7 linked regions of the Homo sapiens genome follow. The protein of the gene in region 1 interacts with the protein of each later gene in a biochemical or structural test. Each region holds a gene or a part of one and is shown in the gene's direction. Other genes may lie near its edges.

Region 1 (4,013 bases):
TCAGGGCTCATTAACATCTCTGAGCCTCAGCTTCTTCATCTGTAAAATGGGGATCATCAGAGTACCTACCTCAAGCAATGCCTGTGAGACATAAAAGCCAGTGGGTATGAAAGCCCCTCAAGGCCCGCAAAGTGCCACAAAGACATGAATTTTCTCTCCTTCATCACAGTGGCTTTTTCTCTTTCCCTTTGTCTCTTCCTCATTACCCATAGGGCTTTTCATTCTTGGACATGGAAGTAAAAATTAGTTTAAGATGCTGAATTCACAGCAATTATGTCATGCCCACCTCCACGGGTTTCCCCACAGGCTTCCTGGGTATTACACAGTACCTGATTGCCACAAGGTCTTGAGAATTGGGGTGGCCCGGACATAAGGGATGCTGCCATTGCTGTCTACCAACACTACTGCTCTGAACCAGAACCAGAACCAGTGCCTTTCATAGAAAAGTAAACCAAGAAGTGATGGATAGACAGAGATAGAGAACTCTTGAACAAAATTAATCAAAGCTATGCTTTGCCCTAGTTGTCTGAATCGCAATCATACACACTGACATCAAATATCTTATTAAAGATTTGCCTTTAGAACGTTCCATCAGAATGATTTGCAAAGCCATTGGGAAGAGATTTTTATGGGAACTTGATGTGCTCTATTTATTTAGAGAAAACGATGCTTTCCAAAGTTAAATGACCATATTGACAGAAACACAAAATAGAACCTACCGTTGGCCTCATCACTCATCCTGTTTCCCATGACTGAAATCAGAATGCAAATTTGTTGACATCTTTCTTTATGTTAAGCACTCAATGGGGCACTGGAGACATGGTGATGAATAAAACTCAGTTCTCGCCTTTATGAAACTCCCAGCCTAATAAGGAGGTCCAAGAGTTACCTGACATTTAAAGCTTTTGTTATCCCATGGTCAGAATTCTTCCCTTGCACATTAATTGTTGAAGATTTCCCCTGTAAAGTTATAGTCTAAAATTGCAATGTTAGTCTACGATGCTTCTATCATTAAAACTATACTTTCTCCCCAAGAATTTTTACACTTCTTTAATTGACCCACAGCATTTTCCTGATGAAGTAATACTAAACTAAAACCTTGAATGCGTATACCCTCTACATCGCTCAGGCTTTAGATAACTGGGGGTTAGTAATCAATCACCTTCATGTTTTTTGGCCTAGGCTCTGTACATTTCAGTAGTTTATTCAAAGGGAATCATTCTTTTCCTGAGTACAAGAAATAGTGAATCTGACTCCTCACTGACCAAACCCCTGACCAATGTGGCAGAGTCCCCTGAACACTTCTGGGGTGGCCATGGGTACATACCACTTAGGAGGAGCATCAAGGTCCACTCTCTGTACCCTTAAGAAGTAGCTTGGCATGGTGGCGCCATTCTGAGCCCAGGCCCTCCTTGGGACTGAGATAAGATATGACTTCAGCCTGAGGCCATTTCTCACACTTGAAAAAGTAAGACACTCCTATCCCCATCCCATTCCAGCTACCCAGCCTCCAAGGAAGTCATCCAACTTCGCAGCTATACCCACATATTGCTCAATTTCCCCAAATCAGTCTCATTATCAAAACAGTCGATCATATTAACTCTTCTTATGAAATTACCTCTCTTTCTGTGGTGCTGTGGCTGTTGAAGGAGGAAAACCTGGCATTGATAGACTATGAATGTGCTTCAGGGGTGGGTGGTGAGGATATACAGCAAAGGTGAATTGCCCTTTGGTTTCAGAAGTTACCTCATATTCCACTTCTGCTCCACTATTTCTTCTAGTAGACAGAAAGTTCTTTTCAACAGCCCTAACCTATTGCTGTTCCAAAGGTTAGTCAATGCAAAAAAAAATGCAGACACTTCCGGGTTTGCAGGTGAAATTGAGCTAATCCTCTGACCAATTAATTCATCAATTATATAAAATAGATGATTGAAAAAATAAATGGCAAAAACCAATTTACTTTCTATGGTTATTTGTTGACTTGAGGTCCACCCTGAGTCAGAAGGCTTGTAGCAGATGACATTGGAGGGGCTGACATTTTACTACTGTGTCTTCCTTAGTTCTCTATCTGAAGTTTCAACGCACAGTTTAGCAGCAATTATAACCAATGATGTAGGACACACCTCAATTTTTGATCTTCATTAATTGACCCACAGCATTTTCCTGACGAATTAATATTAGAGTAAAACCCTGAGTGTCCTGATGAAGTTTTTATATCATAAATGAAATAAGCATATACTTGCTTTTGAACAGTGTGCTTCTTGGGGAAATAAAATAGAAGATGAAATAAAAGGTACAGCAATTCTGATTATGTAGCAGCCATCTATTGAATTGGACCCTTTCCTTGAACTAAATGGCTTCCTTTTAAGTAGTAATGCTTGGTGTAGAGGCCATGGCATTCCATTCTCAATGCCAGACAGAAAGAAGTCTCACAGGTCATTGCCCTGCAGCAAATAGCTAGCAACCAGTTATTACTTAGAGTTATGACTGTGAAAATCTGATACTAAAATGGTGCTAAAGAGTTTTATGAGGATGAAGTTATTTTTGAATGGTTCAAGGAGAAAGAGCAAGGAGAATTAACTCTGAGCTGTGTCTGTTTCCTGTGTTTCAGAGCAGGGCTTGTCTCTGTAATATATGACTGTTAGTTCACTGTGGTTTTCTTTCCTTCTCTTCTCAGGAGGACAAGAAGACCTCATTCTTTCCTATGAGCCTGTTACAAGGCAGGAAAGTAAGTTTCCCAGCACGCTTTCATTCCTAATTTCTGGGCCATAAGAGGTGACATCATTGAAGGAGGGAAAGAGTGAAGGACTAAGGAGAATAAACTCGGCTTAATGCTCTGTTGTCTTGAGACCGTACCTTACTCTTACGCTGTCTCTCACTTTCTCTCTCTTTGACCCTATCACCAAACAGACAACTTCCTGCTGAGTATGGGCACTAATAGCACCTAAGAGAAGGATGCAGCCCTCCAGATGAGTGGTCCTCAATGGGAAGGAACACATTCAAATTACCTAAAGAGCACTAGCTACGAGACTGGTGAATAAATTCTCCTGAGAGACTGATGTCAGCTCAGTATTGAGAATGACTTTCTAGCAGATCTGCCTAAGATGTAGGCTATCTGTAAGCTGCTGCTTTTTCCTGGAGGCATTTATACAGAGGCTAATTGCTACTGACAAGGATACTGCAGAGAGAATTCAAGCATCAGATGGGGACTTGTACCCAATGAACTCTCAGGTTCCTTCTAATCCCAGATACAAGGAAATCTAGAAACTGTAGCAAAGTATAGAGAGTATTTTGATCTGGGGAAAAGAAATCATGAAAACATAAGATGTTATTACTACTAACAATTACTTTTTATAGTCATATCTAAACAATAGCCAAACAGCTGGTTTGGATTCTTTTTTCTCCCACTCAGTTGACTAAATTCAGTTGTTTTGACATTATGTAGGCAGAGCCAGAGAGTAAGCAAAACTCCTCCAAATGTTTCTTTTCATCAACAGATACTGCAATTGCCTTTCCCTGCTAGTAGATTCCAGAAAGTAGGCACTGCCAATCTCCTGAGTGTTAAACATCAATTTCCCTATGCAAGGCTGTATGAGTAATTTATCCAGTGAAGTAATGCCCTTAGCATCTCTTACTGTCTGGCAATTAAGAATCACCCTTGCAGGACAGTTTTGCAGTTGTTTCCAACTCTTTCTCTTTACCTACATCTTCCTTTCCCATTCTGCAGTAAACTACACCCGGCCGGTGATTATCCTGGGGCCCATGAAGGATCGGATCAATGACGACTTGATATCTGAATTCCCTGATAAATTTGGCTCCTGTGTGCCTCGTAAGTGTCATTTTTCTTTCCTCTAGGAAAAACAAAAAGAGCTTGGATTTCTTTATGAGATGGTAAAATGTAATTCCATCCTCCAGTAGTCTCTCCAGTAATTCAAATACCAACCATTTCCGATTAGCTGAGTGCCTTATTTAATTTATTTGCCTAACACTTTTCATTTATGCTGCCGTGTGTC
Region 2 (4,013 bases), on another chromosome or scaffold:
GATTGAAATAATTGATCTGGGTGGATTGTTTGAGGCTGTCTCCACTGTATTTATCTTTCCTTTTGTCCCAGTCATATTTTCCAGAGAGTATCTTCCAGTTTTCTGCTTGGAGAGTTGAGGTCTGGTTGTCAGTATCTGGGAACTCAGGAAAAGAGGGTTGGGTAAGGAGCCAAAGAACATTTAGTATATTGGGCTCACACAATCTGTCTCTGTTAGGATGCCTATGTCTTCCACCTTGTATGGTTTACCCTCTTGAGAAGAGAAATCTGTCACCTGCCACATTGAGGGTGGGGCCACTCAGCAGCTTGGAAGAAATCTGGGATTCTAACTGTTCAGCATTCACTTGCTCCTTTCTTTTAGTCCCCCTTCCACTCTTTGTTCTGGCAGTTCCTGAGCCTTTTGAGGAATCTATGGCATAAACCGGTTTGTTCTTAGTTGTCAGCATTGCTGGCTTAGAATTTGGCCATCTTTGGCGGGGTGCAGTGGCTCACCCCTGTAATCCCAGCCCTTTGGGAGGCTGAGGCAGGCAGATCATGAGGTCAAGAGATCGAGACCATCCTGGCCAACATGGTGAAACCCCGTCTCTACTAAAAATACAAAAATTAGCTGTGCGTGGTGGCGTGCGCCTGTAGTCCCAGCTACTCAGGAGGCTGAGGCAGGAGGATTGCTTGAACCCAGGAGGTGGAGGTAGCAGTGAGCTGAGATTGCGCCACTGCACCTCCAGCCTGGCGACAGAGTGACACTCCGTCACAAAAAAAAAAAAAAAAAGATTTTGGCATCTTTGACTAGGTCAGTTATCCAGCTGCTTTCCAGCTTCCAAAATTTTGTTGCTATTGTCTCATTCTCCCTGTCATAATGGCTTGTGTCCTAAAAACAGAACAAACAACAATAACACAACTTTCTTTATCCTTGTTTTAGTAACGTTTTGGGAGGAAGCAAAATTAGATGTGTGTGTGTTCAATCTGCCATCTCACCTTGGAAGTCCACTGTCTGCTTTCCATTATACAGAAACTTGTTGCCACCTGTCCTCCATTGTTGTCTCCTCCTTATGGGGTTATACCTTTTAAATTTCTTCATAGTTGTCTGAAAAGAGTGTCAGGAGGTAGAGGACCTAAATATTGGTCAAGATATCATTTCTTTAGGAGTCTCAAAATTCTTTTTAGAAGTACTCGTTGTCCCAGGATCTTATAATCTCAAGATTGGAAGTGATTTTGAAGATAATCCGGTTTAACGAGCTATTTGATACCTTCTCTAAAGGAATTGTCCAGCCTAAAATGTGAGAAACTTGTGGTAGGAGGAGATGAGTGCCTGGAGAAATGGATTGGGCTGTAGATCTCTGCAAGGGGTCTGGAAATCCATGTGTACATTAAATGTTGCATGAATAATAGTTCTTGCATATTTGTAATATATAATAAAATTTATTAAAAAGTCATAATGGGCCGGGCGTGGTGGTGGCTCACGCCTGTAATCCCAGCACTTTGGGAGTCTGAGGCAGCTGGATCACCTGAGGTCAGGAGTTTAAGACCAGCCTGGCCAACATAGTGAAACCCCATCTCTACTAAAAATACAAAAAATTGGCTGGGTGCAGTGGTTCACACCTGTAATCCCAGCACTTTGGGAGGCCAAGGCGGGTGGATCACGAGGTCAGGAGATTGAGACCATCTTGGCTAACATGGTGAAACCCCGTCTCTACTAAAAATACAAAAAATTAGCCAGGCGTGGTGGCGGGCGTCTGTAGTCCCAGCTACTCGGGAGGCTGAGGCAGGAGAATGGCGTGAACCCGGGAGGCGGAGCTTGCAGTGAGCTGAGATCTTGCCACTGCACTCCAGCCTGGGCGACGAGCGAGACTCTGTCTCAAAAAAAAAAAAAAAAAAGTTAGCTGGCTATGGTGGTGTGCACCTGTAGTCCCAGCTACTTGGTAGGCTGAGGCAGGAGAATCACTTGAACATGAGAGGCAGAGGCTGCAGTGAGTCGAGATCATACCACTGCACTCCAGCTTGGGTGACAGTGAGTGAAACTCCATCTCAAAAAAAAAAAAAAAAGTCATGATGGTGTTATCATTTCATTTAGTAATGCTTAAATCCAATCATGGGGAGAGGTAGTACTCAGAATTTTTTATTTTGAAAAAAGCTTCTAGACTAGAAAAAGTTATGAGCTATTACTAAAGATTAATAAAGTTGTGGAGATTTTAGTGTATAGTTAACATAAAGTGAATGATAAAACCACCCATTAAAGTCTCTATTTTAAATATCTCTAATAGCTTTGTTATTCTTTGACATTCTATATTTTTATTTTCTTTAAAACACTAAGTCAGTAGCTTCCCAAATGTTGCTCTTTGAGTTAGAATTTTTACCATGAAGTTCATGATGAAATAGAAATGTTATCAATGTTTATACAATTTATTCACCTTTAAATTATATCCATCCTTTTTCTGTGTTAAAATGCCCTTTTTCTTATGAAGTTGTGATTCTAGATAGTAGATAGATTTTTTCCTTCTAATATTTGGCAAAAAATAAAAACCTGCGAGCTCTACATATTGCTCTTCAAATTAATTTTTTTTTTTTTTTTTTGAGATGGAGTCTTGCTCTGTCGCCCAGGCTGGAGTGCAGTGGCGCAATTTTGGCTCACTGCAACCTCCGCCTCCCGGGTTCACGCCATTCTCCTGCCTCAGCCTCCCAAGTAGCTGGGACTACAGGCGCCCACCACCACGCCTGGCTAATTTTTGATATTTTTAGTAGAATCAGGGTTTCACCGTGTTAGCCAGGATGGTCTTGATCTCCTGACCTCGTGATCCACCTGCCTCGGCCTCCCAAAGTGCTGGGATTACAGGCGTGAGCCACCGTGCCCGGCCTCAAATTAATTTTTAACAAGTTTTATAAAATACAGAAGCCTGCTTCTCAACTGCACAAAATCCCCATTGGCCTTTTCTTTCTACCACAAGTTAGTAACAGTCAGTCATGTGTTGCTTAACAATGGGGATATGTTCTGAGAAATGAGTTGTTAGACAATTTCACTGTTGCATGAACATCGTAGAATACACTTAGACAAAGCTAGATAATAGAGCCTACTATACACACCTAGGCTATATGGTATAGCCTTTTGCTCCTAGGCTACAAACCTGTACAGTATGTTATTGTATGGAATACTGTAGGCAGTTGTAACACAGTGGTACTTGTGTATCTAAACAGCAAAGATACACCAAAAGTACTATATTATAATCTCATGAGACCACCCTCTTTTTTTTTTTTTTTGAAATGCAGTCTCGCTGTGTCTCGCAGGCTGGAGTGCAGTGGCGCTATCTCAGCTCACTGCAACTTCTGCCTCCTGGGTTCAAACTATTCTCCTGCCTGAGCCTCCCAGTAGCTGGGATTATAGGCACACACCACTACACATGGCTAATTTCTACATTTTTATTAGAGATGGAGTTTCACCACGTTGGCCAGGTTGGTCTTGAACTCCTGACCTCAAATGATCCACCTGCCTCAGTCTCCCAAAGTGCTGGGATTACAGGCGTGAGCCACTATGCTCAGGCAGGGACTACCCTCTTATATGTGGTATCCATTGACTGAAATGTTCTTATGCGGTGCATGACTGTATTTTACTTTTGTGTTTGTATATAAAATTCAAGATATCAATCAGATGACATGGGGAATTTTTACTATCTCTCATGGTGTTACGATAGTCCTTCCTCATTGGAAGAATGTAGATTGATTAATTGTTGTTAGAACCTGTTGATTGTGACCCCCTAAGTTTGCTTGCAAAGTGTCATCTCATTTCTCACTAGGTATTGCTACTAGCCTGGTATGTTTATTTTGCATTTTTAGCTGTTTACTTCAAGAGAGCTTTCTCTGCTTGTACTGTTTGCAGTTTATCCTTTTAAGTGGCCAAAACCAATGTGGGTTTAGTGCCTTGTTCATTGTTCTTTGTGCTCATCCAACTCACACAGTTAAACTCTCTGAAAAGTGTTCCCTAAAGTTAGTTAAACTGGCTATTATCTGGGTTTTTGTTGTTGT
Region 3 (4,476 bases), on another chromosome or scaffold:
TCCGCAGGGGCGGGAGCCCCTAGTTCCAACACTGAGGACGCGTGACATGGTGGGCACCGGAAAGGAGGGGACTTCTCCTGCACCCCAAGAAGTGGTGGGGAGATTGCTGCCCCTATAGCCATATCTCGGCCCCTTCCCACTCACCACCCCCACCCCAGGTGCTGGGGGTCCCTTATTTTTATGCAATAACTGAGCTTGATGGGGGTGGGCAGGGGGCCAGTTGAGCCAAGCCCCCAGCCCCGATCTGCAGATCCTGCCCCAAGAAGCTGGGGTGGTGGGGGCAGTAATTCCTGCCCCCCTCTCTGCCCTAGGGATGGGCACGGGGGCGCTGGTGAGGTCCCCTGGACCATCCAGGGTGCTAGGGGGCAGGGAGGGGACACCCCCTCCCCGCCTTTACCTCACTTCCAATGCTGCCTTGATCTCTGTCTGGGAGGGGGGAGTGAAGGGGCCCTAGCCCCCTGCACTCCGCCGCCTCAGAGCCATGCGGTTAATTCCTGACTTAGTTTATTTTTGCAAAACGTCGATCTCCTCCTCCCCCGCCCCGCATCCGCGAAGGCTTTTAATGGGAGGGGCGTCAAAGCTCAAAACTGTTTTCCTCTCTCCTCCCCCCTCCAGTTGTAAATGCCACTTCATGAGGGGAGGGGCGAGGGGAAGCCCACCCCTGCATGCTTCTGGCTGGAGCACCTCCCTGGGGAGTCGGGGGATTGGGTTGTGGGCAGTCCCCATGGCCGCCTGGAGAAGCCGCTGGGGCCCGGGGGTGTGGGGCGGTGTGGCGGGCGCACACTGTATGTACCTATAATAAACCCTTTGGCTTTGACGGTCTATGGTCCTTTGTTTGGGTTTTCTGGGCTGCGCCCGGGAGGATTGAAAGGAGGGCTGTGGTGGCTGTAGGGGTGGGTGCGGGGTGGGGAGAGGGGCACGGGGGTACCGTGGCTGCGGAGAACATCCAGATGTACCCTTTTATGTGGACTTAATTTCGGGGTCTAAACACACGCCCCTTGACGAGAACCTAGAGGGATGGAGAATATTTCGTTATGCTTCGTAATAAACTTCCCCAAAGGAGACTCCGGGTCCGCCCCGTCAAGTTCAGGAAAGGCGGACCCCTTTAAGGAGGCGGAAAAGTTAACCGCGATGGGCAGGCGCTCTGTCCAATCGCTAGTGACTCCTGGAGTCTCTGGCCCAATGAGCAGCCTATGGAGGCGGGGTCCGGGTGCACACCCGGAAGTGGGTGCGGGCCAGCCGGCTCGCCCGGGGGCCATGGCAGCAGCGGCTACTGCAGCCGAGGGGGTCCCCAGTCGGGGGCCTCCCGGGGAAGTCATTCATCTGAATGTGGGAGGCAAGAGGTGAGTGTGGGAGACTCCTGAGGTCCCATCCTCGGGGGCGGGAAGCGGGGTGGGAGTATCCGCCTCTCCTGGGGGAATCCCTGTCCATCAAGGGTTGCTCCGCCCCCCCCCCCTTTGGAGGCGCGAGATTCTGGAAAAACGCCGGGGGAGGGGGAAGGGGAGGGAACCCTGGATCCTGCGGGAGGGGGACGCATTCCTCACCCGCTCCTCTTCATCTCTTGCGTCCGTTTACCTTCCCCGCCCAGATTCAGTACCTCTCGCCAGACTCTCACCTGGATCCCAGACTCCTTCTTCTCCAGGTGATCGGGAGAGCGAGTTTGGGGCGAGGGTAGGAGGGATGGAGAGGGCGTGGGAGACCTAATATCCACTCCCCCGGCCCGTGACGCCTGCTCGGTGTCCCTTCCCTGCAGTCTTCTGAGCGGACGCATCTCGACGCTGAAAGATGAGACCGGAGCAGTGAGTCGGACAAGAACTGAAATGGGATGGGGGGGAGGGGTTGGTAGGAAGAGGGGCAGGACCCCACTCAGTCCTGCCTTTTACCCCATCCATCCTCTGCCCCCCTTTCCCGCAGATCTTCATCGACAGGGACCCTACAGTCTTCGCCCCCATCCTCAACTTCCTGCGCACCAAAGAGTTGGATCCCAGGTTGGCATGGAAAAAGGGGAGGGAGTCCCTCACTGTCTTCAGTCCCTGAGGAGTTCTTTCACCTCCTCTGAATGTCCACGTGAGCTCCATTCTATTAGAATTCTCATTCAGAACCTTGATCACAGGCCGGGCGCGCCGGGATTGCTCACGCCTGTAATCCCAACACTTTGGGAGGCCGAGGTGGGAGGATCACTTGAGCCCAGGATTTGGAGACTAGCCTGGGCAACATAGCGAGACCCCTTCTCTAAAAAAGCAAACAGGCAAAACTTCATGAGAATCTTGATCATGTTAAAATTTTATGTCCTTCGATTTCTCCCTACACACACACACACACACACACACACACACACACACACACACACTCAACATTTCCTCCACCCATATCATCACTCCTTAGCATCTTTATTCCATCAAAACTTTCTACCCCTTGACATTCTCTGTGCAGTTTTGAAAATTACCCTCTCAGCATTCTCTGTTCACCCCCACACCTAGACCCTGACCTCTAGTCAATTCTACTACCCAGGGGTGTCCACGGTTCCAGCCTCCTCCATGAAGCCCAGTTCTATGGGCTCACTCCTCTGGGTAAGTGGGAGCCCCCAGCTATCATCCTCATTGTATAGAAAACCAACTCTGTGATGCTACCTGCCCCTCTTCCCCTTCTCTCCTGAAAGAGGGCTGGGGTAGAGGTGGGAGGACTGGTTATGGCCCTGGCCGGGTCTGTATTCGTACTGGGAGGAGTATTGGTACTCTGTGTAGAAAGAAATGGGGAGGGGGAAATGGGGTGGCCTCAGCATCTCCCTAAGTCCCAGCCTTTAAGTCCTCCTGTTGCAGTTCGTCGCCTGCAGCTTCGAGAGGAGTTGGATCGATCTTCTTGTGGAAACGTCCTCTTCAATGGTTACCTGCCGCCACCAGGTAGGCACTCCCAATGGAATGGAGGGGCGCGGAGGTGGGCCAAAGACTACATTTCCCATAAGGCTGCAGCTCTCGGGTGCCTGTGCTGTGCGTCCTGAGATACAGTGGGAGGTGTAGTTCCCTATCAGATGCTTGGGCTGATGCTTGGAAAGGAAGTTGGACACAGCATTTCCCATGAGACAATGGGCCAGCTAACTCTTGAGGCTCAGAAGGATGTCCTGGAGCCCCATGGGAGTTGTAGTCCGGGTTTGGTTTCTTTGTAGGGGGGGCTTTGGAAGACCTGGGATTCTTCGTATGGAGGGGAGAAATATTAATAGGAAGTTATTGACAGTAATGCCCATGATAGCCAGCCCACTGGCCATGGAAGGTATGCCCCAGTGGTTATTGGAACTAGGCTTTTCTGATTGGTAGAAGTAACAGAGTAGGGAAATTTCATCTACAGCTTTATTTCCCTAACTGCAGTCAGCACCTGCTACCTTCATGAAAGTTGCCAGATATAAAGATCTGTAGTAGTACTTTTCCAACTTAGTTTTATCCTGTTTTCCGAAAAACAATCATTTATTTATTTATTTATTTATTTAATTTTATGAGACAGGGTCTGGCTTTGTCACCCAGGCTGGAGTGCAGTGGTGCGATCTTGGCTCACTGCAACCTCTGCCTCTCAGATTCAAGCCATCCTTCCACCTCAGCTCTGCCACTGAGTAGCTGAGACTACAAGCACTCGCCACCATGCCCGGCTAATTAAAAAAATAATAATCATTTTAAATGCAAGCTTTATATTATAAATACAAAGTAAACATGAAAATAAAACCCAAACATAGCAGTGTTATTAAACTCTGGCCTGTAGCAGTGGCTCACACCTGTAATCCTAGCAGTTTGGAGGCCGAGACAGGTGGATTACTTGAGACCTGGAGTTTGAGACCAGCCCAGGTGACACAGCAAGACCTCATCTCTACTAAAAATAAAAAAAAATTAGCCAGGTGTGGTGGTATGCACCTGTGGTCCCAGCTACTTAGGATGCTGGAGTGCGAGGATCGCTTGAGCCCAGGAGGTCAAGGCTGCAGTGAACTATGATCACTCATTACACCCCAGCCTGGGTGACAGAGCGAGATGCTGTCTCAAAACAAAACAAAACGAAAAACAACTCTGGCTAGATGCTATTGCTTGCCAAGGGTGCAGTCTTCCATTTATTAAAAGTGAAAATTAGGGCCAGGCACATTGGCTCATGCCTGTAATCCCAGCACTTTGGGAGGCTGAGGTGGGTGGATCACCTGAGGTCAGGAGTTCGAGACCAGCCTGGCCAACATGGTGAAACCTTATCTCTGCCAAAAATATAAAAGATTAGCCATGTGTCGTGGTGGGTGCTTGTAATCTCAGCTACTTGGGAGGCTGAGGCAGGAGAATCACTTGAACCCAGGAGGCAGAGGTTGCAGTGAGCCAAGATTGTGCCATTGCACTCCAGCCTGTGCAACGAGCGAAACTCCAACTCAAAAAAAAAAAAAAAAAAAAAAACGGAAAATTAGGTAATACTGCAGATTCATTAATATCACAGCAGCACTAAACTCAGTCTTCCTCT
Region 4 (4,013 bases), about 74 Mb from region 1:
TAAAGTAGATTAGAAAGAAACAGATGCTTACTTAATGAGCCAGGCTAGTAACATGAAATTCATTCATTCAGTACATATTTACTGAGAGTGCACTATGTGTCAGGCATTGTTTCAAGGGTAGTGGTGGACAAGACAGAAAAATTGTTGCTATAGTGGAACTTAAATTTTAGTGGGAGAAGAGAGGTGATTAAATAAATATATAAAATATGTAGTTTGTAAGGTACTTAATAAGGGTTATAAAGAAAAATAAAACAGGGAAAGGGATAGTATTTGGGGAAGAGAAGTTCCAGTTTGTAATAGGGTGGTTAGGTAGGCATCCCTGAGTGACCTGTTAATATCTGTAGGAAAAGTATTCCAGGCAAAGGGCACAGGAAGTATAAACGGTCTAAGACAAGAATGTGCTTCGTGTATTCAAGAACCAGAAGCTGGGTGGATGGAATGGAGTGAATGAGCGGGAGTATAGTAGGAGATGGTGTTAGAGACTTAACTGGAGGCCAGATGGTATAGAATCTTGTAGGCCATTGTAAGGACTTTGGCTTTTACTCTTAAATGGCTCTTAGATAGCCATCAGAGTTTTCAATTTTTTTTACTTTTTATTTTAAAATAATTTCTAGCTACGGAAGATTCGCGAGGGGTATTCAAAGGACTCTTGTATAACCTATCCCAAATTCACCAATTGTTAACATTTTGCCACATTTGCTTTATTATGATCTCTGTGTGTGAACATAACTGAACCATTGAGAGTTATTGTGACTCCTAAATTCTCATGTGTTTATTTCCTAAGAATAAAAACATTCTCTTAAATAACTATCATTGATCAAATTTGGAAAACCTAACATTGAGACAATACTATATTAAAGTTTCTCTGGTACCCGATAATGTCTGTTATGATAATTTAAAAAAATTCCTTATTCAGGATCTAGTGCCATATCATGCATTGCTTTTAGTTGTGAGTTTCTCAGCTTTTGTCTTTCATGACATAGACATTTTTGAAGAGTACAAGCAAGTTATTTTATAGACTGTCCCTTAATTTGGTTTTGTCTGATGTTTTCATGATTAGATTCAGATTATAAATTTTTGCCTAAAATACCATAGAAGTGATGTGCTTCTCTCAGTGCATTATATTAGGAGGCACATACTGTCAGTTTTCATGATTACAGGAGGCAGGCATATGATGTCATTTTGTCTCATTTTTGGTGATACTAATCTGCTTACTTGGTTAAGATGGTGTCTGTGGTTTCTTAACTGGAAAGTTATAATTTTTCCCTTGGTAATTAACATGTAAGTCATGGGGAGATACTTTGAAACTAATTATTCTGTTCTTCTTTAAAGTTTTGCCTAACCATTTTTTTTTTAGTTTTTATTTTTTGAATTATATTTGCAGTTTATGGATGCCTAATAGTTTAGCATTTATTGATGATTCTATTCTGAATCAGTTATTTCAAGAATAGTAGCAAAAAGGTGATTTTCTTTTTCTTTTCTTTTTCCTTTTGAGACAGGGTCTCACTCTGCTGCCCAGGTTGGAGTTAAGTGGTGCCTTCATGGCTCACTGCAGCCTCGTCCTCCCATGCTCAAGTGATCCTCCCACCTCAGCTTCCCGTGTAGCTGGAACTACAGGCATGCACCACCATGCTTGGCTAATTTTTTATTTTTTGTAGACATGGGGTCTTGCTACATTGCCCAGGCTGGTCTCAAACTCCTGGGCTGAACCTCCTGCCTGGTTTCCCAAAGTGCTGGGATTACAGGCGCCACTGTGCCCAGCCTTAAAATTTTTTTTTTTTTTTAAAGAAATAGAGTCTTATTCTATCACCCAGGCTAGAGTGTAGTGGCACAATAATGGCTCACTGCAGTCTTGATATCCTGGACTCAAGTGATCTTCCCATCTCAGCCGCCTGAGTAGCTGGGACTACAGGTGCCCACCACCATGCCTGGCTAATTAAAAAAAAATTTTTTTTTTTTGTAGAGCTAGGTTCTTGCTTTATTGCCCAGGCTGGCAGAATAGTGGTTTTCAAACTTTATCTTTATTTATTAATTGGCATTATACCATAATGAAGAGTGTTTCTTTCTCCTTTGTTTATTATTGTATGGATTCATAGATTTTTATTTTACTCAGGTTATAATTCACTATAATTATTTATTTTGATGCTCAAATTTCCCAGATTTGGTCCATGGGCAAAGGAATGGACCTCCACAATGGCAGGGCTTTTGCTTTTTGCTCATTGATGGATTCCAAGCACTAAAACTGTGGCTGGTATATAAGGGTGCTCAATAAATGTTGTTAAATAAATGAATAACTTAGGCTTTTAACAGGATCACTCTGGCCATTATATTAAGAGTATATCCCCAAAGGGAGAATGGAAGAAAGCAAAGAGTTCCGTTAAGAGGTAATTTGTAATAATCCAGGTGAGAGGTGATGTCAGTTAGAACTAAGGAGATAACAGTGAAGTGGTGTGGAATGGTTGGGTTCTGGATATAGTTTGAAGGTGAAGTAATGGAAACTATGTTGAACTGAAGAGCACATACCTCATATAAAGTGGATAGCCGCTAATTAGCTCCAGTTAATTCCTTGTGGGTATACTGGCCTGATGTTACTAAATATTCCAATAATTGATGAGGACCCAGATTTTTTACATGAAATCTCTGATTTTTAAATATTGGCAATAATGTTCTTTTTAAACACTGCAGGCCAAACAAAAAGCATCTGCTGGCTGAATGTAGTTCCTGAGGCTTCACTTTGCAACTTCTAGTTTAAGATACGAAGTTAGAGCCTCCTCTCTCTGGGTGAAATATAGACTTGGACAAATCATATTGCTTTCCTAGCTATTTCTTGGCTGGAGCTTCATAAAAATACTTTGAAATGGAGAATTAGTTGAATAGGGAGGAACTTCTCTGGTTTAGAACAGAACAGAGAGGAGGAAACCAAACTATATAGAGTGTTAGAAGATACAGTAGGCTTTTAGGCATTGGGGGTGTTTAGAGGCAAGGAAAGGATGATTGAAACAAATATGATGAACATAATGGAAAAATAACATTCTTCCATCTGAGTTTCTTTTGTATTTCCTAGAATATGGGTTACTGTATCCATAATAAGAATTTTAGGAGGTTTGAATGTAATTGAGATGGTTAGTATGTAGAATTGAATTTAACTTAGGACCTAAAGTCAGGCTCAGCATGGACAAGAGAAAGCTTTTTTCAGAAATTCCTGGATATTGCTGAGCCTGGCTGAGGCCACAGTGGAGTGGATTACTTTTCATTGGATGTAAATTATGCTTTTTGTTGTTAATAGAGTGCTTTAAACAATTTAGGTTGGTTTTCTTGAAGTAGTTATATTAATGATCCAAGGACATCTTCCTTGTATGGATAAAAATCACTCTGGCCAAAAACAAGCTATCACCACTGCAGTTGATTTTGCCTGCTGCATGTCCTGCCCTCTGAATAGAAAAGAGGTGTTACATAGGGAAAAGGAATGCAGGCTGAATTGTAAGATTCTGAAAGTGTAACCCTTTGGAATGCTGAATTGGCAGTTTTAAGCAGTGTTTTCTTTTTGGTATAGGTCATTTTATTTACTTTTAGATAATATTTATTCTTTAGTCCATATAGAATTAGTGTTTTTTTAATAGCATAATTTTTAATTGGTTGTTAAAAAATTATTGTTACTTTTTTTGAGACAGGGTCTCATTCTGTCACCTATGCTAGAGTGCAGTGGCACAATCATGACTCACTGCAGCCTTGACCTCCCCAGACTCAGATGATCCTCCCACCTCAGCCTCCTGGGTAGCTGGGACTACAGGCATGTACTGCCGAGTCTGGCTAGTTTCTGTATTTTTTGTAGAGATGAGGTTTTGCCATGTTGCCCAGGCTGATCTTGAACTCTGGGCTTAAGCAATCCACCTTCCTTGGCCTCCCAAAGTGCTGGGATTACAGGCATGAGCCACTGCACCTGGCCTTATTTAAAAATTATATGCAGAACAGAAGCTCTTTATCTGAAGTGGCCTGATAGAGTAGTTGATTGG
Region 5 (4,013 bases), on another chromosome or scaffold:
TACTAAAAATACAAAAATGATGGTGCATGACTGTAATCCCAGATACTCGGGAGGCTGAGGCACAAGAATCACTTGAACCTGGGAGGCGGAGGTTGCAGTGAGCCAAGATCACGCCACTGCACTGCAGCCTGAGCGAAAGAGGGAAACTGTCTCAAAAAAAAAAAAAAAAAACAAACAGAAGAACCAAGGTCTGAGAAATATCTCAGTAAATAGTAGCTACAAGTTTACCTTTTAAACCAGAGGAGATATGAAAGCAATCCATACTTTCTGGGACCTTGTGGGGCCAACAGGTGTTGACTGAGGTGAATTGACCTTCTTGAAGATAGTAGAGAGTGAGATGCTGTTTATTCTTTTTTTTTGAGATGGAGTCTTGCTCTGTTCAAGCAATTCTCCTGTCTCAGCCTCCTGAGCTGCTGGGATTACAGGTGCACACCACCGTGCCCGGGTAATTTTTGTATTTTTGTAGAGACGGAGTTTCACCATGTTGACCAGGCTGGTCTTTAACTCCTGACCTCAACTAATCTGCCCGCCTTGGCCTCCCAAAGTGCTGGGATTACAGGCGTGAGCCACCCTACCCAACTGAGATGCTGTTTATTCTAACATTTGTTCCACTGTGAACCTTGAGGTTAGATTTCAAGTATTCAAAGCAGTAGTTCCTAGAGATATCATAATTAGTAATTAAATTAAGATTTAATATTTGTTGATTTTATTTTGGTATTTTTCCACTTTTATCAGGGCATACCAATTCAATCACCATGAGTTGGAGCTTCCTGACTCGCCTGCTAGAGGAGATTCACAACCATTCCACATTTGTGGGGAAGATCTGGCTCACTGTTCTGATTGTCTTCCGGATCGTCCTTACAGCTGTAGGAGGAGAATCCATCTATTACGATGAGCAAAGCAAATTTGTGTGCAACACAGAACAGCCGGGCTGTGAGAATGTCTGTTATGATGCGTTTGCACCTCTCTCCCATGTACGCTTCTGGGTGTTCCAGATCATCCTGGTGGCAACTCCCTCTGTGATGTACCTGGGCTATGCTATCCACAAGATTGCCAAAATGGAGCACGGTGAAGCAGACAAGAAGGCAGCTCGGAGCAAGCCCTATGCAATGCGCTGGAAACAACACCGGGCTCTGGAAGAAACGGAGGAGGACAACGAAGAGGATCCTATGATGTATCCAGAGATGGAGTTAGAAAGTGATAAGGAAAATAAAGAGCAGAGCCAACCCAAACCTAAGCATGATGGCCGACGACGGATTCGGGAAGATGGGCTCATGAAAATCTATGTGCTGCAGTTGCTGGCAAGGACCGTGTTTGAGGTGGGTTTTCTGATAGGGCAGTATTTTCTGTATGGCTTCCAAGTCCACCCGTTTTATGTGTGCAGCAGACTTCCTTGTCCTCATAAGATAGACTGCTTTATTTCTAGACCCACTGAAAAGACCATCTTCCTTCTGATAATGTATGGTGTTACAGGCCTTTGCCTCTTGCTTAACATTTGGGAGATGCTTCATTTAGGGTTTGGGACCATTCGAGACTCACTAAACAGTAAAAGGAGGGAACTTGAGGATCCGGGTGCTTATAATTATCCTTTCACTTGGAATACACCATCTGCTCCCCCTGGCTATAACATTGCTGTCAAACCAGATCAAATCCAGTACACCGAACTGTCCAATGCTAAGATCGCCTACAAGCAAAACAAGGCCAACACAGCCCAGGAACAGCAGTATGGCAGCCATGAGGAGAACCTCCCAGCTGACCTGGAGGCTCTGCAGCGGGAGATCAGGATGGCTCAGGAACGCTTGGATCTGGCAGTTCAGGCCTACAGTCACCAAAACAACCCTCATGGTCCCCGGGAGAAGAAGGCCAAAGTGGGGTCCAAAGCTGGGTCCAACAAAAGCACTGCCAGTAGCAAATCAGGGGATGGGAAGACCTCCGTCTGGATTTAATCCTGGCGGGCTTAAAACCTGTGCTTTTCATAGTTTATGGTAAGCAGCAGCTCACTGAATAATGACTTCCATTGAGTAAACATTTGGCTCTGGTTATCTTCAGGGATGCTGTTGGCTCATGATCCAAGCTCAGGGGACTCTGGAGGCGGGGCTGGGCTGAGGGAGAGAAAGGGAAACACAGTGTTCCCAGGCACATGTTCTTAGCAATAATACAGTTGCAGAACTTTACATTTGTGTCTTCCAGATCTGGAGAAGAACAGACATATTTAAATCATTCTTGTTGAACAGTTTTTGTATGTACAGTATTATGGTACTTTTTTTTTTTTAGTATGAGAACTTTTTTTGTATTTGTACATTGAACTGCTGTAGTTATACTTTTATATTAAAGGGGAAAAAGTCCTTATAAATAATGCCTATTAGGCTAGTGCTATTACTTTGTTCAGCAAATTCTACCCTGGCTTTAGAGTTTTTAATAGATGCTACACCTAATAAAAGTGCCTCTCATATTGCAGGAACGATTTCAGATGTGTAAGGAGACTGAAGAGGAGATACCAGTTTTTAGTCTTGGAAAGCAAGTTCACAGTAGAAGGAGGTTGAGATCTTTCTTTTATGTGAGAAATCTTTGAATCTCATTCATGCGATCAGAGTTGTAGCCAATTTTTGAAAACCTTATTTTCAAAGGAAATAAATGATTCACTGTAGGATTCCTTTAAATATCAAGCATCACCAGTATATGCTTTGATGGTATATGTATATAACTTAAAGTTCTTTCAAAAGCCTGATACAGAAACGTGTCCCCAGTTTGGTAGCAATGTGGAAAACCTGGCTAGAGATGATATGGAGCTGTCCCTCAGAAAGCAAAGCCATGCCTGGAATCCCTAATAGGCTGCTTAGTTGTGAACCTGTTTGATTTGCCTTAAGCCTCTATCCAGAAACCTGCCCGCTTCCGTCTGGTTAAGAAGCCAGTGGTGGATATTTTCTTTGTTAACATTAGAAATGCAAACATTCCCTTGTCAACCAAGAATACTCAAAGCTACTTGTATTGGAAATGGCAGAAGGCCTAAATCCAAATTTCTTATTTTTTATAATTTACCATAGAAGTTTTGTGATTAAATTCTTACTTCTGCCAGTGGAGGTTTATGCCTGAAAGGTCATGGGGTCCTGTCTGTAAATAGACCTAAAGAGAAGTGCAGTATTTATTCTTTGTAGGCATAATGTGTTTGTCACTGACAAGCATTCATGTTCATCCCACTAGTCTTTTATTGCAGTCTTTTATTGTCATTTTCAGCCTTATGTTGGAGAGCTTTGCTTTCTCATCATGTTCACATTGTCTTAAGTTTTGTGAGCTTCTGAGAAAGAGCTTGGTAAAGGTTTAAAGGGGACTTTGTTCCACCAGGGAGCATTTTATTTGGGCGTCTCACCCTTTTCTAATGAAAGCTGTTGTAAGCCACCTCTGACTTGGAAATTCTGAAAGTATGAATATTTTTTATATCTTAATTGTAAAATGCCAGTTCTCCATTATTTAGATGAATAGTAGAACACTGCACCCTTTGTGCAGTGTTTTTGTTTCTCTACTGCATTCCTACCCCCACCAAAAAAAAGAAACTTAAGGAAATTTTTTTTTGAGACAGGGTCTCCCTCTTTCACCCAGGCTGGAGTGCAGCAGCATGATCTCAGCTCACTGCAGCCTCTGCCTCCCAGGCTCAAGCAATCATTCCACCTCAGCCTCTTGATTAGCTGGGACTACAGGCATGTGCCACCATACTCGGCTAATTCTGTTTTAAAAATTTTTTTTGTAGAGATGAGGTCTCACTATGTTACCCAGGCTGGTCTCGAACTTTTGGGTTCAAGTGATCCTCCCGCCTCAGCCTCTCAAAGTGTTAGTATTATAGGTGTGAGCCACCATGCCCAGCCTAGAAAATTTAACCTTATCTTTTAGCCATTCATTTACTTTTATTTGCTTTTTTAAAAAAAAATCTTTAAATTTTAGCCTAGAGAAGCACCTCAGGAACTCTAAACATCTTAGGCAAAAATTAAACTCAGGTGAGACTGAAGGAGAAATTTCAG
Region 6 (4,013 bases), on another chromosome or scaffold:
TCCTTGTGGTTGCTGGCCATCTTCCTTAGCTTGTAGAAACATCACCCTCCTCTCTGCCTTCATCTTTACTTGGTGTTGTCCCATTTTTTATGGTCTTTTCTGAGATAAACACTTTTGAACGGTACAGGTTATTTTTGCAAGATGCCTCTCAATTTGGGTCAGTTTGGATCAATTTGGATCAATTTGGATTTGTCTAAAATTTTTCATCATACTTTGACTTAGGTTACATATTTTTGGCAAGATATAGGTAATGTAATGTGGTCACAGGATGACAATTTTCATTGGCGTAAGTTTGACCGTTTGGTGAAGGTGGCATACCCTGAATTTATCCAACATAAAAGTACCTTTTTTGACTTTATAATTAATATGTAGCCAATAGATATTGTGGGAATATCCTGTTTACCCACAACCTTTCACCTAATACAATTTTTTAAAAAAACTTTTATTTTAGGTTCAGGGTTACACATACTGGTTTGTTGTATAGGCAAACTCATGTCACAGGGGATTGTTGTACAAATTATTTTATGACCTATGTACTAAGCCTAGTACCCATTAGTTATTTTTCCTGCTTCTCTCCCTCCTCCCACCCTCCACCCTCAGATAGACCCCAGTGTGTGTTGTTCCCCTCTATGTATCCTTGTGTTCTCATCATTCAGCTCCCACTTATAAGTGAGAACATGCGGTATTTGGTTTTCTGTTCCTACATTAGTTTGCTAAGGATAATGACCTCCAGCTCCATCCACGTCCTTGCAAAGGAGATGATTTTGTTCTTTTTTTACCTACTAACTTTTACATTCATTGATAAATCATTGCCTGAATCAATTACTTCTATGGTGATTGTAAAGAGTGATTTCCTGCTTCCATTATTCTTTCCATATCTCTTAATTGGCTTTCTTTTGTTAAACAAAAGACTTCCCTCCCCTTTCTTCCTTTTCTTTTTTTTTCCTCACAGTTTTAGTAGGGACTCAATTTTGTCCAATACATTCTAATCTATTCCTGTCATTTTTCGTTTTGACACCCAGATTGCTCCAGACTTGGTCAGTTGGTGTCCCTCCAAGCTGGTGCTGGTGTCCTTCCGACATCCCCCTATTAGTTTTTGAGCACCTGGACCAGTAAGGTGTTCCAGTCTCACTTTGCACTTCCCTGTCTCCACCTGGAATCAGTCATTTCTCCAGAGAACCAACCTTAAATATCATAAGTTAGTCTACTTAAATATGATAAAGTATGGTCCAAACTTTGAAAGAGAAGATTTTAAAAAAATCCATTAGCACCAAATGGAATAAAATGGACTGGTTAAAGCATATATCTTAACGAGGTAACGATGCAGCAGGAGCTCTGGCCTGATTGATGGTACCTTAGAGAGATAGATTTTAGAGACTGGCTTGCTTGCAAATGTTTTCTTTTGTAGTGGAAGGGAAAGAGAGCACTTAATTTCCCTTGGTCAGGTTAAATTCACTGAATTCTTCTTAGTCCAGAACTAGTGCCTTAACGATGGTAGCTGGAGGCATGGCTGCTGGAGAGGGAGGCTCAGTGGGTGCTTGCAATGAGTCTAGCTTTATTGGATTCATTTGGAACAGGGTAATTTGTTTCTAAATTATTCATCAAGATCCAGTGCAGCTGGTGGCTGGCTGCATGTTGTGTGTTTTAGGTAAGTTTTATTAGCTGAAGACCTCATTGCAGCCTTGGTTGGCGGAGCTGGTGACCAGACGAGGCTGTAAGGAGAACAGCCAGGTTTCCAGAGAGCCAAGTGTTAATGGGGCTGTGCCCATTCAGGCTTCTTCAGGAATCATATAAACATCCATTTTTCCACCCATTTCCTAAAAGTGCAAAGCATTTGTTTTCATTTCTGAAATGATCCCTGCAAGTCGTTGAAACAGGAATGACGTCAGCTTTGGAAGCTTATCCAGTCAGGGCAAGTCACAGGGTTGTATGAAGTACTTCCTGGTTTATAGTTCAAAAGGTTTCTTTAGAGAAAAACATACTGGGAGGGCTGACATTCATTTCAGATCTGTTTTTTAGAAATTGATTTTCTTAACTACAGAAATGATACAAACCTCGAGCATTGCAGACGTATCCAAAACTGGAGAGTGAGGCCGTCTCACCCTGTCTTGGGAGAAGCACTGTCAGAGCCATCTGCCCCTCGGGGTGGTTTTCTTTGTGCACTTATTTGTGTGTAGGTTGTGAAATGGTTAAAATGAAGTAATGTTTTTAGGACACATGAGCACCTTGTGGAATGTAGTGATTCCTGGTTATAACCTTACTGTTTTGAGAAATGGCAATTTTGGGTGCAGAGAAGAGTAGTAGAAGTGACAGTCCTAGGCCTTTGCCCTGGCACTGATGGTGCAACTTTGGGCAAGTCAGCAAACTTCAGGGCTCAGTTTTCTCACCTGTAAAGTGGGTAGGAGAAGAATAGAGAAGTCCTCTCTCCCGGCTGTGGATCAGAGACAGCAGAGGAGCCTTCTTTATAAATATGCTGAGGCTCAGCCTCCTCCTGGGGGTTTTGTTTCATTGGTTTTTGTGGAGCCTGGGAATTGCAATTGTAAAAAAAGTTCCCAAGTTACTCTAATGGGCAGCCAGGATTGGGGGCTACTGAACTGAAAAAAAAAATCTCTAAGGCCTAGCCTTCCCCTCCAGCCCGATCAAGTGCTATGTCTACACAGACTTGGACATTAGACAGCCTGGGTTCCAATCCCAGCTCACACAATCACTAGCCGTGTGTCTTCTGGGCAAATTACTTACCCTCTCTGAGCCTCAGTTTTAGAACGGTCCTTGCTCCAGAGCACATAGGACTGGAAAGGGAGTGATTGTCATTCACACTATTGATTCGGAGATCTCTTGTGTCGCCTCTAGTGGGCACAGGGATATGCTTTGCACATGATAGTGGTGACATTTGGTATTAATATGTACTTGGCACGTGTTGGTGGTGACATTTTATATTAATCCATTTGGTTTTAAGAAATTCTATACCTTTTTAAAACTCTATGCATTCCTTTGAGAGCATCTGGGAAATGCTATTTTCCTTTTCTTCACAGATGGGAAAAGGACAATCTCCAAGTGGAGGTTAAAGCACATGGTAAAGTCAGTAATGAGGCCCTAACAAGCACACAGTGGTGTGAAGGAGTGCAGGGAGAAAGGCAAGCAGTGTTGACCTTGGAGCTAATCTTCCTTAGTCACTATGTGTGGGTTACTCAGGTATAGTATACTCATCCTCTCCAGCAAACCTGCCATTCACCTGAGCCAGACACACCCACACCCTCCATAGGGTACAAGGCACAGACCAGCACCCCACTGTAGACTTTATGCAAATACATTTATGTCATACCTGGGCCATATTTTCCTCAGAAGGATTATTCTACATTGGAGACAACACATGGCAGGATGGAAAGATATGAGCCAGTGGCCCTGTGGCTTCCTGTTCTGGGCTCCCTGTGCCATTTACTTAGTCACTCTGTCCTGAGCGTCTTGTCTGCATGATGAAAAGATTGGATTATGGATGACATCATTCCAAGAGTCTGTGTTTTCTGTCCACTGTCAGATTTTTGGTTTGTCAATAATATATGGCTATGATCTATTTTTCAGTATACAGTAAATGCACTCTTTTTAAAAAAATTAGCTCCATACTAAACAAAAATATACATGCATGTGTGTATACCTATGTGTATAGATATAAAATATATATTATATATGATAAATTTTAAATGGTTATGAAAATAAGAAAGGTCTATCTTTGTAGCCCCAGCACTAAATCATGCCTCTTGCTGACTCGTACACTACACTTTGAGCTCCAGTGGATTAAAGGGAGACTTCAGCTTAAGTCTCACCCAGGCATAAAACTTGGAACATTTGCCTTCCAATGGAGCATGGTCACAACAAATAGGAAGTGAAAGAATAAGTGATGTGGTTCCTAATACCAGTTCCATTTTTGTCAGAGTTTGGGTCTTTTAACTGAATGCAGGCATCACTTTCTGAACTTTGTGGTTAAATTAAGGGACAAAAGAGTGTTTAAAGTCCCT
Region 7 (4,013 bases), on another chromosome or scaffold:
TTTTTTTTAATAAACCTCAACCCAATTATAAATGAGAATACTTGATATATGAAATAATATGAAATGATAGTTGTTCATATTCACACTGAGGGTCTTAGGGGGTTTATTTATAGCTAACTGAAATGATGCAGCTGAATTACAAGTAGCTGATAGAATAATCAACCTCAGTAAACATTTAACATAACACTCTCATTTTACAGATTAGAGAACTCAGCCCTGAAAGGTGACTCATTCAAGGCCACAGTGAGTGTCAGATTAAACTGGTGCTTCAGTAAAGCATACAGACTTCTGTACCCAGCTTTCAAATTCTCTTGACTCTTACTCACAAATCTATTTAAAGTTAACTTTATTATCTGTATGGATAGAAGAGGAATAGTATAAATGGTCAATTGGTCAGTGAGAGGTTTTTTTTTTAGAGTAAATGCTTCTCATTCACAAGGGTTCATTTTTTGATCCTCCTGAACATCCAGATTTGAAAATAATAGTGTCATATCCTTTTATCCATAAAATATGTAACTAAGCATTTAAGGCATAACCGAATAGTAAGTAACTTCAAGTGATTCTGTGTGAGATGAAATTCATACATGAATTTATTAAAATTAATTTTGGAATACTTGAACCAGTTTAACATCTATAGAGCATTTAAAGAGTGTATTGTACTTATACATGTTTCAGAATAAAATAACTATAAAATTGGATAATCGCTTTAATTTATTGAAAACTGGGGATTTCTGGGAAAAAAAAAACAACAGTACTTTAACTTGAAAGATGACACTAGCATTACCTTTCTAGGATCATTTTCCATAAGGGGGTGTGTGTGTGTATTTTAAAATCATATTCTATTTATGTGGTGACAAGTAAAGAATAGCTTAACTGTTGATGAAATACAGATGCTAAGTGGCTAGCTAGATGTGCTCATAGCTTCATGACCTTCCCACTTTCCAATTGTATAATTTTCTATCAGTTTTACCCTCTTAGGCTGAATTTCAGCTACTGTTCATATTCCATGAACCACATGCAGCCCAGGAAGTCATCTGAGAGTGTGTGGCTGGGGGCGGGGTGGGGGTGCTGAGGGTTGGATAGGGGAAAGATTACAATGGATAAAAGCTGCCCTTTGATAATCTGCATTCTGATAAATGATATTTAAAATGTATTGGTGTTTTTGACTGTATTTTTACCCTGTGCCTTAAATGAGGAAAAGATTTGAGTAGATTGCATCTTATGTCATTATGTATTTCTGGGGAAAATTAAATTTTGGATTTTTATGGTATGTTGTTAAGGATGGCACAGATGTCCTTTTAAGTTCTCTTTGACCATGAAACTGATGCAGGATTTTTGCTCCTTAGCTCAACTAGGTCCAGGTTCTTATCTCAGGAGCGGAAGAATTAGGCACGTGGACATCAAAGAGTGAGTGGAGTAGAATCTATTAATCGAAAGGAAAGCTCTTAGCAAAAAGAGAGAACATGGTAGGTGGTTCTACTACCTGAAGACAGGAAAGTTCCGTAATATGGCTGAGCCTGGGGCTCTTTATTGGTTCAGAATGGGAGTGTGTGGTCATTGGTTTGTGAGTATGCAAAAAAGGTCAAAGCGAAGACACCACTCCAAGGTGGGCAGGACAGTGTAGAAAACCAATTAGGAAAGGGTAGGTACAGGTTAAATAGGTGAAGGATGGGGATCAATCATGCCAAACGGGAAGGCAGGTTCTTAATCCGATCTCAGGATTTACCCAGGACAGTTTCCGGATTAAAGTTCGGGTTTCACTGAGGACCCGCCCCTGTCTGCCTAGACATTTGTTTGCCTCTTGCCTCTATCAAAACTAGTTACAGACGTCCTTTTTAGTTTTTGGTTCATAACAGCTCCCAAAGGATAACTACTAATAATAGTTGTCAGAGATAGAATAGGGAAATGGCATAACCGAATAGTAAAAGCAACTGAATAGTTGCTTTTCATGGAACCCTTTGACATTATAATCTGTTAGGCTTTTAAAAGCTCTTTAATGAACTCATTTCTCAGCATTTTCCCTGTCATGATCTGGAGTTACAATAATACTTTATATGTAAAGTAGGCTGGACGAGCATAGAATAGGGCTTCCCACCCACATTCGTCTGTTGTAAATGGGTCACAGGTGTGCCACTACTACTATAGGAACTTTTTTTTTTTTTTTTGAGACGGAGTCTTGCTCTGTTACGTAGGCTGGAGTGCAGTGGCGTGATCTTGGCTCACTGCAGCCTCCACCTCCTGGGTTCAAGCAATTTTCCTGCCTCAGCCTCCTGAGTAGCTGGGATTACAGGTGCATACCATCTAAATAATAAAAATCAGTGCCCAGCTAGTTATTCTGTTTTTGTATTTTTAGTAGAGATAGGGTTTTACTGTGTTGGCCAGGCTGGTCTCAATCTCCTGGCTTCAAGTGATCCACCCGCCTTGGCCTCCCAAAGTGCTGGGAGATTACAGGCTGGGATTACCAAGTCCAGTTCCTACTATAGGAACCATTGAATTCCTATTTATGGTTCCTTCAGAAAAGCTGCTAAATCCTGAATTCGGCAGTGGTTATTCAAATAGTGGAATTTATAATTCCAGTAGTGTGAGATGGCATTTGCTGTGGACAACAGCTCTGTCATGCCACAGGAGCCCCTTTGGCAGCAAAGCTATCAGTTTTTGTCACGAGCCCCACACTACTTGTTTTAGTCAGGATTCTCTTAGAGGGACAGAACTAATAGGATATATCTCCAAAGGAGAGTTTATTAAGTATTGATTTACGTGATCACAAGGTCCCACAGTAGGCTGTCTGCAAGCTGAGAAGCAAGGAGAGCCAATCCGAGTCCCCAAAATGAAGAACTTGGAGTCCGATGTTCGAGGGCAGGAAGCATCCAGCACGGGAGAAAGATATAGGCTGGGAGGCTAGGCCCATCTCTTCATGTTTTTCTTCCTGCTCTATATTCGCTGGTGGCTGATTAGATGGTGCCCACCCAGTTAAGGGTGGGTCTGCCTTCCCCAGCCCACTGACTCAAATGTTAATCTCCTTTGGCAACACCCTCACAGATACACCCAGGATCAATATTGCATCCTTCAGTCCAATCAAGTTGACAGTATTAACATTACAAGTCCACTCCTTGTCAACTTGAACCCATATACATCTGAGATCGTATGTAATCTTAAAATAAAGACAATAATAAGGTCATAATTACACCTAATGTAATAAAACTATCCTTCATACAACCAGAAACACACCAATCCCCAACCCAAATACTATTACATAAAGTTAATAATACTTAAATGCTGTTATGAAATCAATAAATCTTATGTCACATGATAAAGGAAAAGGAAATATAAAGTGAAGATATTAGTACATGTGTATACATACACAAACATGTTTTTAACAAATGAAGGAGGAAATACTCATGGCAGTTACAGTCCTCATTTCTGCAGCTGGTCACGTGGTCATAGCTGGTATTGATGACTACCTTCTTCTACCCATTCTGTATTAACTTTGCCTTCCCCAAATACCTCAGCAGGTCATGGGTTTTTTTCCTGGTGGAGTGATCCAAACCTTCATTCCTGAATGGTCCGGATCATTTGTAGTCCTGCCTGGATTTGGCTGTTGTGGTTTTGCATTGACAGTAATCACAGGGCATGGTAATACGAAGAGATGCCCTAATGGGTCTCATGTATTCCATGCATACTCTTCCTTACTTCCGTTGTGAAGTTGTAGACTGATTTCATCTTGATAGTCTGGGTCAGTCACCTTAGCCAACACTGTAACTCCCCCTCTGAGCCTGTTGACTTAAAGGGAGGAGGAGCCCAAAGTGTCCAGGTGACAATCTTAACTTCCAGTTTAATGGAATCATTGTTGTGTCTCCTGGTGGCAGCATTCTTCCCTCTGGAATTAAGACCTCTAGGCCAGCAGAACATAATGTTGCAGGAGAGGAAGCAAAAATTTTGCTAGTGGATCACTAGGGGTGATGGTGAGTGGTGCCACTTCCAGTTCCACCCCTCGATTCCTGGACCTGTGAATC

The links.
Region 2: the proteins of DLG2 (region 1) and EVI5 interact in a test that uses a peptide from one of them, tested with the Homo sapiens proteins (one large-scale study listed by IntAct).
Region 3: the proteins of DLG2 (region 1) and SHKBP1 interact in a test that uses a peptide from one of them, tested with the Homo sapiens proteins (one large-scale study listed by IntAct).
Region 4: the proteins of DLG2 (region 1) and DENND5A interact in a test that uses a peptide from one of them, tested with the Homo sapiens proteins (one large-scale study listed by IntAct).
Region 5: the proteins of DLG2 (region 1) and GJC1 interact in a test that uses a peptide from one of them, tested with the Homo sapiens proteins (one large-scale study listed by IntAct).
Region 6: the proteins of DLG2 (region 1) and IGSF5 interact in a test that uses a peptide from one of them, tested with the Homo sapiens proteins (one large-scale study listed by IntAct).
Region 7: the proteins of DLG2 (region 1) and MAP4 interact in a test that uses a peptide from one of them, tested with the Homo sapiens proteins (one large-scale study listed by IntAct).

Annotation. Positions count from the first base shown.
Region 1 is NC_000011.10:83,471,442-83,475,454, reverse strand, and holds part of DLG2 (disks large homolog 2), read left to right. Parts: intron 1-2,677; coding exon 2,678-2,728; intron 2,729-3,727; coding exon 3,728-3,829; intron 3,830-4,013. UniProt on the Homo sapiens protein: Required for perception of chronic pain through NMDA receptor signaling. Regulates surface expression of NMDA receptors in dorsal horn neurons of the spinal cord.
Region 2 is NC_000001.11:92,774,665-92,778,677, reverse strand, and holds part of EVI5 (ecotropic viral integration site 5 protein homolog), read left to right. Parts: intron 1-4,013. UniProt on the Homo sapiens protein: Functions as a regulator of cell cycle progression by stabilizing the FBXO5 protein and promoting cyclin-A accumulation during interphase. May play a role in cytokinesis.
Region 3 is NC_000019.10:40,575,643-40,580,118, forward strand, and holds the start of SHKBP1 (SH3KBP1-binding protein 1), read left to right. Parts: upstream 1-1,230; 5' UTR 1,231-1,257; coding exon 1,258-1,343; intron 1,344-1,588; coding exon 1,589-1,642; intron 1,643-1,753; coding exon 1,754-1,799; intron 1,800-1,914; coding exon 1,915-1,988; intron 1,989-2,480; exon of another isoform or gene 2,481-2,511; coding exon 2,512-2,570; intron 2,571-2,819; coding exon 2,820-2,900; intron 2,901-4,476.
Region 4 is NC_000011.10:9,199,149-9,203,161, reverse strand, and holds part of DENND5A (DENN domain-containing protein 5A), read left to right. Parts: intron 1-4,013.
Region 5 is NC_000017.11:44,802,560-44,806,572, reverse strand, and holds part of GJC1 (gap junction gamma-1 protein), read left to right. Parts: intron 1-735; 5' UTR 736-755; coding exon 756-1,946; 3' UTR 1,947-4,013. UniProt on the Homo sapiens protein: One gap junction consists of a cluster of closely packed pairs of transmembrane channels, the connexons, through which materials of low MW diffuse from one cell to a neighboring cell.
Region 6 is NC_000021.9:39,772,544-39,776,556, forward strand, and holds part of IGSF5 (immunoglobulin superfamily member 5), read left to right. Parts: intron 1-4,013. UniProt on the Homo sapiens protein: Provides, together with MAGI1, an adhesion machinery at tight junctions, which may regulate the permeability of kidney glomerulus and small intestinal epithelial cells. Mediates calcium-independent homophilic cell adhesion.
Region 7 is NC_000003.12:48,009,705-48,013,717, reverse strand, and holds part of MAP4 (microtubule-associated protein 4), read left to right. Parts: intron 1-200; exon of another isoform or gene 201-243; intron 244-4,013. UniProt on the Homo sapiens protein: Non-neuronal microtubule-associated protein. Promotes microtubule assembly.